2 separate regions of the Homo sapiens genome follow, and region 2 is linked to region 1. The links come from fine-mapping of genetic effects on gene expression. A gene starts in region 1. The other region holds a variant in brackets. All regions are shown on one strand. Distances are from middle to middle. Region 1 holds the start of ABCD4 (ATP binding cassette subfamily D member 4). Region 2 has its middle 27 kb from the start of ABCD4.

What was found. PIP is the estimated chance that this variant, and not a neighbour inherited with it, causes the effect.
Region 2: its variant is the best candidate, but not a certain one, in a credible set for the expression of ABCD4 in monocytes after R848 (Quach 2016, PIP 0.64).

The regions. Positions count from the first base shown.
Region 1 is chr14:74,300,784-74,305,171 of GRCh38, forward strand. It overlaps ABCD4 (ATP binding cassette subfamily D member 4), which reads right to left and starts at 2,151. Exons shown (of 19, transcript NM_005050.4): 1 at 2,092-2,151. The coding sequence starts at 2,129. It also overlaps a transcript of VRTN not described here. RefSeq lists a silencer at 1,900-1,979 and an enhancer at 2,240-2,599.
Region 2 is chr14:74,273,384-74,277,771 of GRCh38, forward strand. No RefSeq gene overlaps it. Among named protein-coding and RNA genes, the nearest start is that of ABCD4, 27 kb to the right of the region's middle. The variant C/CA (reference allele first, on the strand shown) is at 2,720.

The DNA of each region.
Region 1 (4,388 bases):
AACACAGTGCCATAGATTAAGTTAGAAGACTTGGAGGTGGTATCTGCAGAGTGCAAAACCAACAAGGACTTGAAATCTTTATTTTTTTGAGACGGAGTTTTGCTCGTTGCCCAGGCTGGAATGCAACGGCGCAATCTCGGATCACTGCAACCTCCGCCTCCCTGGTTCAAGTGATTCTCCTGTGTCAGCCTCCTGACAAGCTGCAATTACAGGTGCATGCCACCACGCCCGGCTAATTTTTGTATTTTTAGTAGGAGACGGGGTTTCATCATATTGGTCAGGCTGGTCTCGAACTCCTGACCTCCGGTGATCCACCTGCCTCGGCCTCCCAAAGTGCTGGGATTACAGGCGTGAGCCACCGCGCCTGGCCTAAAATCTTTTTTTTTTTTTTTTTGAGACAAGGTCTTGCTCTGTTGCCCAGGCTGGAATGCAGTGGTGCGATCTCAGCTCAGGGCAACCTCTGCCTCCCGGGTTCAAGCGACTGTCCCACCTCAGCCTTTTTAGTGGCTGGGAGTACGGGCGTGCGTCAACACGCTCAGCTAATTTTTGTATTTTTGGTAGAGATGGGGTTTCACCATGTTGCCCAGGCTGATCTTGAACTCCTGGACTCCAGTGGTCCACCTACCTCAGCCTCCCAAAGTGATAGGATGACAGGTGTGAGCCACCGGGCATGGCCAGGATCTAAATCTAGAGCCTACAAGAATTCCTGCAAGCCAGGAACATAGGAAATCCACAGAGAAGTGGGAAGGGATATAAACAGGCAATTCAAAAAAGGGAAAACCCACGTTTAATAAACACATGAAAATGTAGGCCGGGAGCAGTGGCTCACGTCTGTAATTCCTTTATGCACTGCCCGTCGGGAAGTGTAATCCCTGCACTTCGGGAGGCCGAGGCGGGTGGATCACCTGAGGTCAGGAGTTCAAGACCAGACTGGCCAACCCCCCCATCTTTGCTAAAAATACAAAAAATTAGCTGGGTGTGGTGGCGCGCGTCTGTAATCCCAGCTACTCAGGAGGCTGAGGCAGAAGAATCGCTTGAACCCGAGGCGGAGGTTGCAGTGAGCCGAGATCATGCCACTGCATTCCTGCCCGAGCAACAAGAGCAAAACTCCGTCTCAAAAGAAAGAAAGAAAGAAAGAAAGAAAATGTACACGATGGGATACCACCTTACACCCCCCAGACTGATAAACATTACAAAACCAGCCGCCACTGAACGATGGAGGGATACCGGGAAACAGGAAGCTTTATGCACTGCCCGTCGGGAAGTATAAACTAGTGTGACCATTCCAAAGAACAATCCAGCAAAATTAGATATGACCAGGACCCAACTCTGGGGTGGATACCCAGAGAAATGCAACAATATGCACAAGGAGACAACTGCCAGAATATTCGTTACAGTGTGGCTTGTGGGGGTGTTAATACTAGAAAAAAATCTATCCACCACTAGGGGAATAAGTCTATGCACACAGCACCCCTCATGCAAGCACTCAGAAGTGAAAACAAGATGACTAGCATGGATGGACTCAAAAACACAATGTTGAGGAAAAAGGTTTAAAGAAAAATCACAGCATATTATATTGAAGAATTCGAAACCGCTATATAGATTTCAAAGTAACACTTGCACAAATTTACCCAAGGTGGACCGTAAAGCCACTTATATAACACACCAGAGTGGCTGTCTGAAAAGGGGAGTGAAAGGGGTCTGGGAATAGGAACGAAGAGAGGAAGTGATAAAATAAACAAGGAGCCTTGCATTGGCCCACAGGGTGTCAAGAACTGAGAAGGATCAACTCAATTTTGTGCACCTGAGGTTCTTCTTTTCAAAAAAAGAATGCCAGTTGCGAGGGTGAGGGTCCCACACCGCAGGAGATGGCACAAGTCCGGCCAAGAACGGAGGGGGCCGCGGCCGGTGCGGAGCGGCCTAGAGCGGCGGGAGGGCGGACGCCCCTTCGAGAGCTCCTCTTTCTCTCAGAAGTCACGGGGGCGAGACGGGGGCGCCAGGGCGGCGGACGAGGCACGGAGGGCAGGAAAGCCCATTCCCTACAGCCCGGAACTCCTGCTCCCAAACCTCCTCCCCGACCGCCCTGCTTACCTGGCGCCAGCTCCGGGCGCGGGCCCCGCGACCGCCATGACCTGAGACCCGAGGGACTCTGGAGCCCAGCTGCCCCTAGTTCAGTACTGGGTAGAGTCCGAGGAGGGGCGGGGCCCCGGCTACCACAGAGACGGCGTTTGATAGAGAGGAAGGTGCGGGAGACGCGGACTCTCCCGGAAGCGACCGACGTCTCTAAAAGTACCAGAGAGTGGACTCGGCTGACCCGGCGGCTACAGCGCCCCCATATTTTCTGGGAGACTTCCCTTTTGACAATAGGTATCCGAGAGTGTAACTACTTTATGGCAAGTATTTTAGATTCTGTGTATAATAGATGTTTTACATATTCTCCCAGAGAAGCCAGCATGATCTTTAAAAAAGTATAAATTAGGCTTCCAGCCGGGCCCGGTGGGTTACTCCTGTAATCCCAGCACTTTGGAAGGCCAAGGCGGGAGGATCGCTTGAGCCCAGGAATTCAAGACCAGCCTGGGCAACATGGCAAGACCCCGCCTTTACAAAAGACAAAAGCATTAGCCGGGGATGGTGGCGAGCGCCTGTGGTCCGAGCTACTCTGGAGGCTGAGGCAGGAGAATCACTTGGGCCCGGAAGGTCAAGGCTGCAGTGAGCCGTGACTGTGCCACTGCACTCCAGCCTGGGCGACAAAGAGAGACCCTGTCTCAAAAACAAATAAATAGATGATAATGATCGATAGATAAGATAGATAGTTGAATGAATGAAATGCTTATCAGTTGACTGATTAGTACCCAAAGGGAGGTGGGAAATGGCTCAAAAAAAACCCAAACAGCATGATCCCACAGGTCCCTAAATTTGAATCTGGATGTGTCTTCTCACTTTCCTCCAATCCTTATTAAGTTTCAACTGCAAGCCAAACACTCTACAACATGCATGTATCACTTGTCTTTATGAAAGTTGCAGTCTAGCTGGGTAGGTCAATCAGTTGACAATTACAGATTTTTTTTTTTTTTTTTTTTTTTTTGATACGGAGTGTTGCTTTTGTTGCCCCGGCTAGAGTGCAATGGCGCGATATCGGCTCACGGCAACCTCAGCCTCCCGGATTGAAGCCATCCTCCTGCCTCAGCCTCCCGAGTAGCTAGGATTACAGGCATGTGCCACCACGCCCAGCTAATTTAGTATTTTTAGTAGAGACAGGGTTTCTCCATATTGGTCAGGCTGGTCTTGAACTCCTAACCTCAGGTGATCTGCCCGCCTTGGCTTTCCAAAGTGTTGGGATTACAAGAGTGAGCCACCGCTCCTGGCCTTTTTTTGTTTTTGTTTTTGTTTTAGACGGAGTTTCGCTCTTGTGGCTCAGGCTGGAGTGCAATGGTGCTATCTTGGCTCACTGCAACCTGTGCCTCCCGGGTTCAAGCGATTCTCCTGCCTCAGCCTCCCGAGTAGCTGGGATTACAGGCATGCACCACTATACCCGGCTAATTTTGTATTTTTAGTAGAGACGTGGTTTCTCCATGTTGGTCAGGCTGGTCTCGAACTCCCGACCTCAGGTGATCCACCCACCTTGGCCTCTCAAAATGCTGGGATTACAGGTGTGAATCACCGTGCCCGGCCTACAGCTGTCTTTATGAAGTGCTATGACAAACATACCATACAGCAGGGGTTCTCAACTTTGGCGCCATTAAGTTTTGGGGCCTGATCATTCTTTGCTGTGTAGGCTTTCCTATGCAATGTAGGATGTTTAGCTGTATCCCAGGCCTCTACGCACTAGATGCCGGTGGCATTCCTTCTGACCTAGGCATCCCAAAATGTCTCTAAACATTGCCAAATGTCCCTTAGGGGAGAAAGGACCAAAATTCCAGCTTTACCCCACCCCCTAGCATTGAGAACCACTGCCCCAGAACCAAAGAGAAAGGCATTTAACTCAGCATGGGGAAAAGTGGAATCTAGAAAGACTTTGAAGAGGAAATAACTTTATTCAAGTATGTCTTTCTTATTTTGAAAACCAAAAAAATAGGATGCAATTTTTGAAAAATTAATAAGGCAACCAAAGTATTAAAGCAAGCAACGTCACCTCTCTAGGGTAATCTAGGTTTACAGATCTTGTCCCCTTTCAGTCTCAAAAATGTCCTAGTTTGGTATTCGGTGGCATTACTGTCCCAGGGTGCCTCAGCATTGTCTATTACTGTAAACTTTTAAGAAGTAGCAGGCTGGGCACGGTGGCTCACGCCTGTAATCCCAGCGCTTTTGGAGGCCGAAGCAGGCAAATCACCTGAGGTCAGGAGTTCAAGACCAGCCTGGCCAACATGACAAAATCCCGTCTTTACTAA
Region 2 (4,388 bases), 27 kb before region 1:
TAGTAAGTTGGGGACATGATACCCCATTACCACTTAATACTTCTGTGTATATTTCCTTAAAATGAGGATACTCTCCCACACAACCAAATACGACTAACAAAATCAAGAAATTGACATTGATTTGTCCAGAAGGGTGTTAAATACTATCAACTAGTCCACAGAACCCTGATCATTCCAAAAACGTCCTTTATCAACTGTGATCTGATCCAGGACTGCACGCTGAATTGAGTGACCCAGTCTCTGTAGTCTCCTCCAATCCATAACTGCCTTCTGTGACCTTGACGTTCTTGATGATTTCTGGCCAGTTACTTTATAGAATGTCCTCAATTTGGGTTTTGATATTTCCTCATAAGACTCAGGTTGCATACCTGAATCTGCATTTTTGGAGAAAATTCCATGGAACTGGTTCTCCATTCTCAGTGCATCATATCAGGAAGCACACCATGTTGTTCCATTCCTGGTGATGTTAATGTTTATCATTCGATTAAGATGGTACCTGCTAGCCAGGTGCAGTGGCTCATGTGCCTGTGATCCCAGGACTTTGGGAGGCCAAGGAGGGGCATATGGCTTGAGCTCGAGAATTCAAGACCAGCCTGGGCAACATGGCAAAACTCTGTCTCTACAAAAAATACAAAAATTAGCTGGGTGCAGTGATGTGTGCCTGTAGTCCCAGCTTCTCGGGAGGCTGAGGCAGGAGAATCGCTTGAGCCCAGGAGGGGGAGGTTGCAGTGAGCCAAGATTGTGTCATTGCACTCTAACCTGGGCAATGGGAGTGAAACCCTGTCTCAAAACCAAAACCAAAACAAAAAAAGATAGTACCTGCAGGTTTTTCCATTGTAAAGTTAATGAGTATCATGTACTTATTAACAAGTATTTTGTGGGATGATGCTTTGAGACTATATAAATATCTTATTCCTCATCAAACTTTAATCCACTACTTTTAACATCTGTTGGTTCCTCTTGTCTGGCTTTTTAGTGGAGAATGGTATTTAGGTACCAAAATCTAGGCACAAGGTATGCTTACTGTTATTGTGGTACAGTTGCTTCTAGGCCTTCTCAGGGGACAGAGTTGGGAAAACACACTGTATAGTGCTTACAGGTGCACTTTATTATTCTTTTTAAATTTTTTAAAATGTTACTATTTTTTTGAGACAGTCTCTTGTACTGCTCAGGCTGTAGTGCAGTGGTGGGATGAGGCTTACTGCAGCCTCAACCTCCCAGGCTCAAGTGATCCTCTCACCTCAGCCCTGCCAAGTAGCTGGGACTACAGGTGTGTGCCACCACACCCAGCTAATTTTAAAATTTTTTGTAGGAAAAGAAAAATATTTAAATTTTTTGTAGCTCAATATGTTGCCCAGACTAGTCTTGAACTCTTGGCCTCAAGCAATCCTCCTGTCTTAGCCTCCCAAAGTGCTGGGATTACAGGCATGAGCCACTGTGCCCGGCCACAGATGCATTTTGAATATCCTGGCATGAAAGACTTCCCAGACCCCTTTTCTCTGACTGGAGGGGTCCAGGGTACTTTGATGTCCCCAAGCACATGTAGCTAATACCTCACTCACACCCCTGGAATGAACCTTTGAAATAAGCAAGAATTAGGCTTTCTCTAGTTTCAAGTCCAGCCTGCCCCCCACTATAAGCCACACACCCTTGCACTAGCTACTGCTTTTGTAAATGGGTTTGGGACAGTTTTTAATAAAGGCAGCATGTGCTAGAACCCTAACCAACGATTTATCAACATGGACACTAGACTGTCTACTCTTCTAAGTGCTAGGGGTATAGCAGTAGCAGTCTAGATTTCAAACACAATCAACTTACAGTGGGGGTGGGGGGTATAGTTATTCCAGAAAACCTAGGCTAAAGCCAGATGCTGCAATAGACAGTAGGATTTGGTTTTGATCCTCCCAGGAGACTGGGTGAAGTGGAAGCATGCTGATGACTTAGCATACTTCCAACTGAGTGCTGAGTAACAGAAGGCAGAGCTATCAGCCAGAGAGCATTCTGGGCTTCTGCCTATATTAGTCCGTGACTGCATAGTGGATGTGTGTCCAGAGTTAACCATAGCCCTGTGAGGCCACTGGCTGCATGTGGCTCCCTGGCCGTGGTACATCAGGATTAGAGGGGTGTGATGATGGCCACCCCCGTCTGTAACTAAAGGGAAACCAGACTCCTCTGGTGGTTCTATCTGCCTGGTGGGGTGCAGAGAGGGCTGTGGTTGAGCTTGGTGGCATGGTGCCAGGTCCCCTGGGACAGCACCATCTTTTCCACTGGAAGGGGGAGACAGATGGTAGGAGGAGTGTACTCTGTGGCTATGCTAGGAATGGAAAGTGCTCACCCACCTGACCACCCCTGGCAAAGCTGGGGGCCAGGCCCACTCTTCTCTGGAAGCTGCGGTTTGGCTAGCGAGTAGGGACAGATGTCAAGAATGTGGACAGACTGGCTGGGCGCAGTGGCTCACACCTGTAATCCCAGCACTTTGGGAGGCCGAGGTGAGCGGATCACTTGAGGTGAGGAGTTCAAGACCAGCCTGGCCAACATAGCGAAACCCCATCTCTACTAAAAACACAAAAATTAGCTGGGTGTGGTGGCGCCTGCCTGTAATCCCAGCTACTTGGGAGGCTGAGGTGAGAGAATCGCATGAACCCGGGAGGTGGATGTTGCAGTGAGCCAAGATCATGCCACTGCACTCCAGCCTGAATAATAGAGTGAGACTCTGTAT[C/CA]AAAAAAAAAAAAAATTACAGGAAGAATGTGGGCAGACAGAGTGAGCAGTGTGTGAGAAGACACCCTGGGCTGGGAGGACTGGCGTCAGGGAGAGGCCCTGGGGTACCTCCTGAGCAGAAGGGCAAGGGTGATCCATGTGTCCCTAGATGGGGAGGGCCTCCCCCAGACTCTCTAGGCCTGCCTTGGGGGAGCCGGTCAGACCATTTTGTTTTTTTTTTTTTTGAGACGGAGTTTTGCTTTTGTTGCCCAGGCTGGAGTGCAATGGCGAGATCTCGGCTCACCACAATCTCCACCTCCCGAACTCCCGACCTCAGGTGATTTGCCTGCCTCAGCCTCCCAAAGTGCTGGAATTACAGGCATGAGCCACTGCGCCCGGCTGGTCAGACATTTATTGAGAGCTCCCTATGCCTGAGGCTCCTTGCTAGCCCCATGTTTGACGACCAGGTCTGCTGCTGCCAGGACAGCTAGAGTGGGGCTGGAGTTTGGGGTATAGAAGTGGGCAAGGGCAGACACGGGAGCCTAGACCCCTGCAGGGGTGCCACAGGAGGGTAGCATGGGAGGAAAGGCCAGGCCTCTGACTCCACTGCTCACTCACCTGTCCCAGCGCCATCTCCTCATTCTGGGCTCCTGTCTGGACCAGTGCCTGGAGAATTCTGTCAGCCTCAAGACTTTCCCTGCCAGAGGCTGTTGGTGGCTACATTCAGCTTACCATGCTGGCTTGGTACCTGGAGTGCTAGGCCTGACTTCTTCTTGCCCAGTTCAAGCACCTAGAGGCCACTGGGGTAGAGTAAGAGGATGAAGAGGACTGGGGTGGGTGTGCGGGAATGTGTGGGGAGGGGCCTGGGGCTGGGCCACCCTGGGACGAGCGGTGTTGGACAGGAGCAGAGAGTAAGCTCGGAGCACTCATTTGGTGGGCTGCAGACTGAGAAGACTTGCTGGGGGCAGAGTTCTTGGGCTGGGACTGCTTTTTTTTTTTTTTTTTTTTTTCCGAGACAGAGTCTTGCTCTGTTGCCCAGGCTGGTGTGCAGTGGCGTGATCCCAGCTCACTGCAACCTCCGCCTCCTGGGTTCAAGCAATTCTCCTGCCTCAGCCTTCTGAGTAGCTAGAATTACAGGCACACGCCACCATGCCTAGCTAATTTTTGTGATTTTAGTACAGACGGGGTTTCACCATGTTGGTCAGAATGGTCTCGATCTCCTGACCTTGTGATCCACCTGCCTCGGCCTCCCAGAATGCTGGGAGTACAGGCGTGAGCCACCACACCGGGCCAGGACTGTTCTTAAAGCAGTAGGATGCTTTTTTTTTTTTTTTGAGATGGAGTTCCACTCTTGTTGCCCAGGCTAGAGTGCAGTCGTGCAATCTCGGCTCACTGCAACTTCTGCCTCCCAGGTTCAAGTGATTCTCCTGCCTCAGCCTCTCAAGTAGCTACAATTACAGGCATGCACCACCACGCCTAGTTTTGTATTTTTAGTAGATGGGATTTCACCATGTTGGTCAGGCTGGTCTCAAACTGCTAACCTCAAGTGATCCACCCGCCTTGGCCTCCCAAAGTGCTGGGATTACAGGCGTGAGCCACCATGTCCAGCCTGCAGTGGGATGCTTTCTGTCTTTGAAAAGGCACATGGAATCCAATCATGCTGGCAAACCTTTCTCCTCTTCCAGCTCCAG